2 linked regions of the Homo sapiens genome follow. The protein of the gene in region 1 interacts with the protein of each later gene in a pairwise test. Each region holds a gene or a part of one and is shown on either strand. Other genes may lie near its edges.

What was found. The genes of interacting proteins can lie anywhere in the genome.
Region 2: the proteins of FAM110A (region 1) and KRT39 interact in binary tests that used the Homo sapiens proteins (3 or more experiments, as listed by UniProt).

What each region holds. Positions count from the first base shown.
Region 1 is NC_000020.11:843,681-846,777, forward strand, and holds the end of FAM110A (protein FAM110A), read left to right. Parts: intron 1-962; exon of another isoform or gene 963-1,027; 5' UTR 1,028-1,124; coding exon 1,125-2,012; 3' UTR 2,013-2,597; downstream 2,598-3,097.
Region 2 is NC_000017.11:40,963,917-40,971,421, reverse strand, and holds the start of KRT39 (keratin, type I cytoskeletal 39), read left to right. Parts: upstream 1-4,473; 5' UTR 4,474-4,565; coding exon 4,566-5,033; intron 5,034-6,893; coding exon 6,894-6,976; intron 6,977-7,505. UniProt on the Homo sapiens protein: May play a role in late hair differentiation.

The sequences.
Region 1 (3,097 bases):
GCCTTGTGGGGTGACTCTGTGGGCTTGGCCCTTCCTTGGAAACAGGGTCAGGGTTGGCTTGATGTCTGGGGCATCAGGTCCTGACACTTGGGTGACCACGTAGACACTTGTGCATCCAGGTGTATGCCCTCCTCCCAGGTGAGTACCCATTCCATGGCTGCAGGCAGATCGAGGGTCTGCCGGATGCCTCCATGCAGGGCTGTGTGATTTTGGACATTTCCAGCTTCTCTCAGCACAGCATAGCTCAGGGCTGATGTTTCCACGTGACAGGCATTTGTGGATCACCGTGGGCCATCCAGTTCCATGCAGGAAGCTGACGGATGTCTGGACTCCACTGGGGCGCGGGTGGAGATTTTCTTTGCTCCTTCCCTATAAGCTCTGCCCTTTGCCTGGGGCCTGGCATGTCTAGGCGGGTGGATGGCACAGGGCAGCTTCCTGCCTGGATGGGTGAGGGGTAGAGGTGGTACCAGGCTCCCTGTGGGGAGTCCAGGTGGGGTGTGGGGCTGGAGCCCTTTTTCTTGGTCATTTAACCCTACGCCCCGGTGCCAGCACCTTCCTTTTTGGTGGTCAGGGGCAGAGCCACCTACTCGCTGGGTTAACTTAAGCAAGTTGTTTGCCTCTCTGGGCTTCAGTTTCTCCATCCAAAAAACGGGGCTGTTGAGAGGACCTGAGGTTGAGTTGACTGGTGCGTAGCACAGAGCCTGGAGCCTCCCTTGCTCCCTTTAGCGCGTGCCTTGCCCTGTCTTTTCTGCTCAGGTTGCCCAGGTCGCCCAGGTCTTTTTTCTCTAGCACCTTTTTTCCTCTCTTGGTCTCAGCTGGGCCTGGTTCTCCCGGGGCAGGAGGGAGGGGGTGTGGGTGGGGCCTGAGGCCCCGCAGCTGCTGCCTTGTGCCTGCTGATTGGCTCCTTGTGGAGGGGCGTGGTCTCTACCTTATAATAGGGAGGGCGTCTTATCCTCTCAGCCGCGGCTGAGCCTCTTTGTCTGAGCGCGCTCGGCTTTTTTTTTTTTTTCTCTCTCCTTCCCTGCAGCAGTGGCCGGTGTCCAGCTGCCTACTTTCTGCCCGGATCTCTGGCTCCTCATCTCTCCGGTCTCCGCAGACTAAAGCCCTCGGGATATGCAGCAGCCATGCCTGTGCACACGCTGAGCCCCGGAGCCCCGTCCGCCCCCGCCCTACCTTGCCGCCTGCGGACCAGGGTCCCTGGCTACCTGCTACGGGGGCCGGCAGATGGTGGAGCCCGGAAACCGAGCGCTGTGGAGCGCCTGGAGGCCGACAAGGCCAAGTACGTCAAGAGCCTGCACGTGGCCAACACCCGCCAGGAGCCTGTGCAGCCCCTGCTGTCCAAACAGCCGCTCTTTAGCCCTGAGACTCGCCGCACAGTGCTCACGCCCAGCCGCCGAGCCCTGCCTGGCCCCTGCCGACGGCCCCAGCTGGACCTGGACATCCTCAGCAGCCTCATCGACTTGTGTGACAGCCCCGTGTCCCCTGCCGAGGCCAGCCGCACTCCTGGACGGGCCGAGGGAGCCGGCCGTCCTCCCCCAGCCACCCCTCCGCGACCGCCGCCCAGTACCTCTGCGGTCCGCCGGGTGGACGTCCGCCCCCTGCCCGCCTCGCCTGCCCGGCCCTGCCCATCACCCGGCCCTGCCGCCGCCTCCAGCCCAGCCCGGCCGCCGGGTTTGCAACGCTCCAAGTCGGACTTGAGCGAGCGCTTTTCTAGGGCAGCCGCTGATCTCGAGCGCTTTTTTAACTTCTGCGGCCTGGACCCGGAGGAGGCGAGAGGGTTGGGTGTGGCCCACCTGGCACGGGCCAGCTCGGATATCGTGTCCCTGGCAGGGCCCAGTGCTGGGCCGGGCAGCTCTGAAGGGGGCTGCTCCCGCCGCAGCTCGGTGACTGTTGAGGAGCGGGCCCGGGAGCGCGTTCCCTATGGCGTGTCGGTGGTGGAGCGCAATGCCCGCGTGATCAAGTGGTTGTATGGGCTAAGGCAGGCTCGGGAGAGCCCAGCAGCTGAAGGCTAGGCGCCACTGGGCCTGGAATTCGCCACAGGACGGATCTTACAGAGGCAAGTGGTCCCTGGACCTCTCTTGCATCCATTCTCTAGACGGCCGTGTCAGAGGCTCCACCCTGTTGTGAACTTGGTATGGAGGCAAAGGCTTAGAGGCTGGACCAGCATTGTTGGGCAAGGACTGACTCTCCAAGGGTTTTGTTCTTGGCTTTGGACACCTGAGAACCCCCTCCTCCCCTCCCCCAATACAAGGTTTTTGACATGAGTGTACTCCTGCTTAGTTCCTCTTGTGGGGCTGCATTTGCGGTGCTTTGCCCTCCCCACTGTGAGTGAGGGGCCAAGGGATCTCCTCAATCCTGTCTCCCCAGCGGCTCTGTTTCCTCCTTCCTTCCTTGGCCTCTGTCCTTTGCTGACTTCCTCTTCCTTACCCAGCAGAACTCACCCTGGGGTCGGGGCAGTGGGGAGGGGCCTATCCACTGCTCTTCCTAGTCCTTGGCAGCTGGCCTAGGTGGGCAGACTATAGGAGGGACTGGTTAGGAGTCTGCATTGCTTTGACTTCCCTCTCCTTGGTTAATAAACACAAATGCTTGTTTCTCAAGGGCTGGGCCTTCAGACTCTTCTGTGTTCACAAGAGAAAGGGTGAGAGAAGTCTTGGGGTGGGGCCATCAAAACAGTAATTGTTCACCCCGAGGTCTAGTGGTGGGGCATGATGATAGCGGCTGGCCTGGCTGGAGACATGTCCCCGTGGTGGGTTCTCATAACTCTCCTGGAAGGCTAGCAGGCCTGCCTCATCGAGGAGGAAACTGAGATCCAGCCATGAGTGAGCTGGAATAGAGCTGGGAGTAGGAATGGGGTCTTTCCCCTGCACCAGAAAGGGAGCCTGCAGGGGAAAGGCCGATGGGGTGCATAGACTCTCCCCAACCAGGAGTGTTCCATCCAAGCCCTGCCCAGTTCCCAAGGGGGCAGGAAGCTCGGAGAGGGCAAATCCTGAACTTGAGGTCACACAGACCATAGAGTGAGGATGAGAAGTGGGAGTTTTGGAGGAAGAGAGACTTGGGGTGGACGGCACAAAATGAGTGGCCTCCCTGGCGATCTTGG
Region 2 (7,505 bases), on another chromosome or scaffold:
TTTTCAGACAATAAGATGCATCAATTGAAAGTGCGCAGGTCAGGCTGGGCACAGTGGCTCACGCTTGTAATCCCAGTGCTTTGGGAGGCCAAGGTGGGAGGATCAGTTGAGGTTAGGAGTTTATGCCAGCCTGGGCAACATAATGAGGCCCCATCTCTAAAAAAATTTTTTTAAATTAGCCAGGCATGGTGGCATGTGCCTGTAGTCCCAGCTACTTGGGAAGCTGAGGTGGGAAGACAACTTGAGCCCAGTAATTCAAGGCTTCAGTGAGCTATGATCATGCTACTAAACTCCAGCCTGGGCAATAGAGTGAGACCCTGTGTCTAAAAATAAAAATAAAAGTAGGCAGCTTCATGGAGTTTGAAAGCACATGAATTTGTGTAATCAACACCCAGATCAAGATACAGAATAGCATTTCAAAATGTAGAACATCAACCTTAGAAATTCTTTCTTGTTGCTTTCCAGCCAGTACATCTCTCTGACAGAGACAACCACTACTCTTATCTCTAACCATGTCAAAGATGAGTTTTGCCTGTTCTTGAAGTTAATATAAATGTAGTCATACTGTTCGTACTGTTTTGTGCCTGACTTCTTCAGCTCAATATGTTTTTGAGATTTTTCCATGGTGTCATGAGTACCGGCAGTTCATTCTTTATTGTTGTTGCATACTACTCCATTACATAAACATGTCACAGTTTGTTGTCCATTATTCTGTTTATGAGCAGTTATTTTTATTTTAGTGCTATTAAGAATATAGCTGCTATAAGCATTCTTGTGCAAATATTATTGTGTGTATAAAATATATACATTCATCTCTCTTGGACATATACCTAACCATGAAATTGCTAGGTCCTTGGGGGAGGTCCTTTGTCAGAGAGAGAGAGAGAGAGAGAGAGAGATAGTATATTACTGTATAAATAAATATGTGTTTATTTATTTTTATACACATATTTATTTATAGAGTCATGTGCCACATAATGACATTTCAGTCAACAATGATGGAACATACACATACAAAAGCTGTCCCAAAAAACTATAATGTCATATTTTTATTGTACCTTTTCTATGTTTAAATGTGTTTCCAGATAACAAATACTTACCATTGTGTTACAGTTGCCTACTGTATTCAGTACAGTAACATGCTGTGCAGGTTTACAGCCTATGAGCAATAGACTATACCATATAGCCTAAGTGTGTTATAGGCTATACCATCCAGGTTCATGAAGTCCACTGTGATGTTTACACAACAACAAAATCACTAAAGGTGAATTTCTCAGAATATATTCCCATTGTTACAAAAGATATGACGTTGTGTATGTATGTGTTCTAATGTGTGCGTTGGGGGGTGGGTGTATGAAGAGAGAGAGAGAATATTTTAACCCAGGCTGTAGCTTGCCTTTTCACTTTCTTAGCTATTTATCTGATCAACAAAAGGTTTTCATTTTGATGAAGTCTAATCTATTTATTATAGTGTCCTCCATGAGCTTAGAAGTCTTCTCATGGCAGAAGGTTATGAATATAATCTTCTGAGTTTTCTTCTAAAAACTTTAGACTTGAAATCTTCACAATTAAGTGTTTAATCCAACCTGAATTAAGTTTTATACGTAGCGTGAGGTAGAGATCAAGATGTATTCATTTTGGCTATACAAGTATCCACTTGATTCAGCGACAAGTATTGAACAGTATTGAAAAAACAGTATTGAAAAAGCTTTCCTTTTCTCATTGACTTGCTTTGGGATCTTTGTCAGAAATCAATTGACCACATATATGTGAGTCTATTTCTAAACTCTATATTCTTTCTCATTGATCTACTTTCCAACCCTTATGCCAATATCACACTGTTTTAATTGTAGTAGCATTATAGTAACTTGCATGAATTTACATTTCATTGCCACAAGCAATGAGAGTGCTATAGGCAGTGAATGTATCTGTTATCAAACTTTGATTTTTTTCAGTTTGATAGGTGGAAAACTAAAATATCTCAGTATAATTTAAATTTACATTTCTCTTTTCATGAGTGACATTGAGCATTTTTTCTTATTTTAAGTGCCTTTTGTATTTTCCTTTTGGTCACTGTCTAGAGTGTAATTGTAATATTGTTTCCCAGTTTGTCATCTTGTCTTCTGGTTTTACAGGTTGTATTTTTCACCCAAGCACAAGTTCAAACACTGTTATTTTATGGAGTCAAATCTAACAGTTTTTTACGGCTTCTTAATTTTGAGTCATCATTGGAAAAGTCTTCTGACTCCAAATTTATAAAATAATTATCCTTTTGGGCATATTTATTATTTATTTTTCATATCTCAATCTTTGATCTACTTGTAATTCGTCCCACTGTAAAGGATGAAGTATGGTTTCAACATTCCCTGCCCCCACACCAAAGGGAATACAAAATTGTCCCCAAAGTACATATAATACATATAACGGTCTACCTTTTCCCCATGGCTTTTATTTTGTATTTTATTTTATTTTATTAAAAATGAAATCGCACTGTGTTGCCCACCTGAACTTGAACTCCTGGGTTCAAGTAATTCTTCTGCCTCAGCCTCCTACAGAATGGGAGAAAATTTTTGCAATCTGTCCATCTGACAAAGGGCTAATATACAGAATCTACAAGGAACTTAAACAAATTTACAAGAAAAAACAAACAACCCCATCAAAAAAATGGGCTAAGGATATAGAAAGACACTTCTCAAAAGAAGACATTTATGTGGCCAACAAACATATGAAAAAAGCTCATCATCACTGGTCACTAGAGAAATGCAAATCAAACCACAATGAGATACCATCTCACACCAGTTAGAATGACAATCATTAAAAAGTCAGGAAACAACAGATGCTGGAGAGGATGGAGAGAAATTGGAACACTTTTACACAGTTGGTGGGAGTGTAAATTAGTTCAACCAATGCAGAAGACAGTGTGGCAATTTCTTAAGGATCAAGAACCATAAATACAGTTTGACCCAGCAATCCTATTACTTGATACATACCCAAAGGATTATAAATCATTCTACTATAAAGACACATGCACATGTATGTTTATTGCAGCACTATTCACAATAGCAAAGACATGGAACCAACCCAAATGCCCATCAATGATGGACTGGATAAAGAAAATGTGGCACATATACACCATGGAATACTATACAGCCATAATAAAGGATTAGTTCATGTCCTTTGCAGGGACATGAATAAAGCTGGAAACCATCATTCTCAGCAAACTCACACAGGAACAGAAAACCAAACACTGCATGTTCTCACTCATAAGTGGGAGTTGAACAATGAGCACACATGGACACAGGGAGGGGAACATCACACCGGGGACTGTGAGGGGGTGAGGGGCTAGGGGTGGGATAGCATTAGGAGAAATACCTAATGTAGATGACAGGTTGATGGGTACAGCAAACCACCATGGCACTTGTATACCTATGTAGCAAACCTGCACGTTCTGCACATGTATCCCAGAACTCAAAGTACAAAAAATCTCATAATTCAAGAAAAAAAAAAAAGGATGAAAAGGGGCCACTAGCTGAGGATGTGGACAGCCTGTAGAAGCTGGAAAAGGCAAGAAAATGATGTTCCCCTAGAGCCTCCATAAAGGATTAGCAGCAAGTAACTTTCTGAAGAAAATGCTGAGTAAGTATTCCTCAGAAAGAAAACACACCCCTTTCAATGAATCCTATTTAAACATCCAGTATAAACCAACACTGTGATACATTTTTATCTAATGTAATACCACAAGCAAACACCAAGCACTAAAAATGTTATAAAATGTGGACTTTGGAAAACCAAAAGAGAGCTAGTCTCTTTTCCAAGAAATTTCTTATTAGCAATCAAACCCTACCTTTTCCCCATGGCTTTTATTTTATTTCATATTTTATTTATATTTTATTTTATGTTATTACATTTTATGGAAAGCTAAAACATAAATCTAGCAATTATCTTTAAAACAAGACTTTTAAAAGACTAACATTTTAATTCATACTCACATTGTCCTGACACTGAAAATGGGGAAACCATTTGGGCAGAACAAACTAAAATATTGACTTCTGATTTCTAAGTTTACCAATAATTATTAAACATTAATAGTTTCCCTTTTCTAGAGAAGAAAGGAAAAGAAGGATGAACTCATTCCTGGTTAAGCTCAGTGCCAAGTGGAGAGGTCAACAAGAATGTAATGAACTTAGTATACTCACACCTGCTTAATAATGGATGCTGTTAGGACAGTTCCTTTTGAAGACATAATTTGAAGCTCTGGGTCCAATAGACAAGTAGTAGTTATGATGGGTAATAACTTACTAACAGCCTAAATGCACATGTTTATGAGACAAATAACTCTTCTTAAGCAAGTAAAAAGCAGACTAATAAGATGTTCCTACAGGATTTGATATAAACCTGAGAAAGGAAAACATCCCACCTGTGTGACACCACGTAGAAGAGAGGCTATATAAGCACTTCAAAGAGGAAAACACCAAGAGCCTTGGAATTCAGACTCTGTGGAGGTGGCTTGAGCTTTTCATCCTGGTGACCACAGACCTGGAACAAACTAAAGCCAGACACATACTATGGACACCAAGGGCTGTACAACAACCAATTCTCCTTCAACCCCATGTCAAAACTGCTCTAGGATTACAAATGTTAGTACCATCTCTTCTAACAACGGCTGCCATCCTGGTGGCCTTACAGTCAACAACTGTCAACCAGCTGGCCACGTTCTCAGAATTCCCTGGGACCAGGGCTGCCAACCCACTCCTCGCTTTTGTCGCAAGCCCATCTACCTAATGAACAACTTCAATGCCCGTTTTTCTCTGGATGACTGCAGCTGGTATGGTGAAGGCATCAACAGTAATGAGAAGGAGACCATGCAAATCTTGAACGAGCGCCTTGCTAACTACCTGCAAAAGGTGCGAATGCTAGAACGAGAGAATGCTGAACTGGAATCTAAAATCCAGGAAGAAAGTAACAAAGAGCTCCCTGTTCTATGTCCTGATTACCTGTCTTACTACACTACCATTGAGGAGCTCCAGCAGAAGGTAAGATTCCTAAGAACCTGTTTAATCGTGTTGTGAATTAATGGTTTCCAAGCAACAGTTATTTGCTAAACTTTAATATTTTTTGTTCAGTTGATGCTGAAAATTTTTTTGAAGAATAGAAAAATTTCTTGAGTGAAATTGTCATCTTGAGGCAGCATTCAGAGTCTGATAGTATTTCTGGTCAGGCGCAGTGATGCACACCTGTAATCCTAACACTTTGGGAGGCTGAGGCAGACAGATCACTTGAGCCCAGGAGTTCTAGACCATCCTGGGCAACATGATGAAATTCCATCCTTACACACACACACACACACACACACATACACACACAAAAAAAAATTAGATGGGCGTGGTGGCACATGCCTGTGGTCCCAGCTACTTGGGAGGCTGAGGTGGGAGGATCACTTGAGCCCAAGAGGTTGAGGCTGCCATGAGCCAAGATCCTGCCACTGCACTCCAGCCCAGACAAAAGTGAGACTATGTCTTTAAAAATCAGAAACAAAAAGAAGAGTCTCATGGTGTTTCCTTTCTCCAGAAATACACTCTACCATTATAACTAGATGACTCAGGACCAAAAGATGTTAACAGCAAGTTGTTGCCATTTTTTAAATAAAAATAGGGAAACAGAGATCAGAGAAAATAAATTTTGCTTTAATGAGTTTCTAAGCAATTTAGTTTTTATCCATTTTTCAACCATCACCACCTTTTTCTCCTTTTATGCTTATGTTATCATCTCCACATTGCTTGGTTTGTTTCTACACCAAACCTAAGTTTGTTATGCACAGACGTATTCTGCTACTACATATCTGGATTTATTCAGTTTTATTCATTCAACAAATGTTTACTGAGCAGCAACAACATTGGGCCAAACATTGTTCTAGATTCTGGGAAAATATTGGTGACCTTTAAAAAGTCCCTGCCCTCATGGAGTTGACATTCTAGTGGATCATGGTATTTATATAAATTTAGGATGGATTTTATTTTATTTTTTATTTATTTATTTATGTATTTATTGAGATGGAGTCTCACTCTGTCACCAGGCTGGAGTGCAATGGCGCGATCTCTGCTCACTGCAACCTCCAGCTCCCAGGTTCAAGCGATTCTCCCTCCTCTGCCTCTCTAGTAGCTGGGTCTACAGGCACGCACCACCACACCCAGATAATTTTTGTATTTTTTTTTTTTTTTGAGACGGAGTCTCGCTCTGTCTCCCAGGCTGCAGTGCAGTGGCGCGATCTCGGCTCACTGCTAGCTCCGCTTCCTGGGTTCATGCCATTCTCCTGCCTCAGCCTCCCAAGTAGCTGGGACTACAGGCGCCCGCCACCACGCCCAGCTAATTTTTTTTTTTTTTATATTTTTAGTAGAGACGGGGTTTCACCGTGTTAGCCAGGATGGTCTTGATCTCCTGACCTCGTGATCTACCCGCCTCGGCCTCCCAAAGTGCTGGGATTACAGGCGTGAGCCACTGCGCCCGGCCAATTTTTGTATTTTTTAGTAGAGACAGGGTTTCACCATGTTGGCCAGGATGGTCTTGATCTCTTGACCTCGTGATCCGCCCGCCTCAGCCTCCCAAGTGCTGATATTACATGGGTGAGCCACTGCTCTCAGCCTGGATTTTTTAACAACAACAACAAAAAAAATACTTAAAAGTTTCTAGTTAAGTACTTTTTGCTGATCTTTTAGGAAAATAACAGGAAATCTGACTTTCTGAAGTTTTCCAAGCTTTGTGAGCATAGCTATGAAGATTAATAAAAAGTCTACTTAGCCTTCCCCTGTTACTTGACACACACACAAACCCCTTGGTTCTTAAAGAAGGAAATCTTGGTGTTTGCTTCATTTGTGTGTACAATCTCTTAATTCTAGATCTTGTGTACCAAGGCCGAGAATTCCAGACTGGTCTCGCAAATTGACAACACCAAACTGACTGCAGATGACTTGAGAGCCAAGTAAGCCCACCCAACACCGTCATCAATGACAGAGCTCACCCTGAGTCTGACCGAGATGCCCTCAACAAAATTGTCCCCATGTCTACTAACCCTCTTGCCCCAGATGATGTTGGCACAAGCCCAGAAAAGACTTTCAAATTCAATGAATGATTAAGATTAATAACTGCTCACATGTATACAGTACCTATAGTTTCTAACTTGTGAACCCATTTGATTACCTACACAATAGTTCAGTAAAATAGATAGGACTAATATATTGTTACTCTCTTTAAGGTGAGAAATCTGTGGCTTAGTGAGGCTAAGTTACTCACCCAAAGGTAAGCATAACTAGCACAAGTCAAAACCGAAACTTGGACACATGTTTTCTGAGCCCTAATCCAGTGCTTTCTTCACTTACATTGCATTGCCACTAGGGGCAGAGGAAGGACAATAAATTCCCATATCTCAAAGAACAGCAATGTAGATCCCCCTAGCAAACTAATTTGGGAATAATAATTAAGTTATGATCTATATCAAATGGTTTCACCTC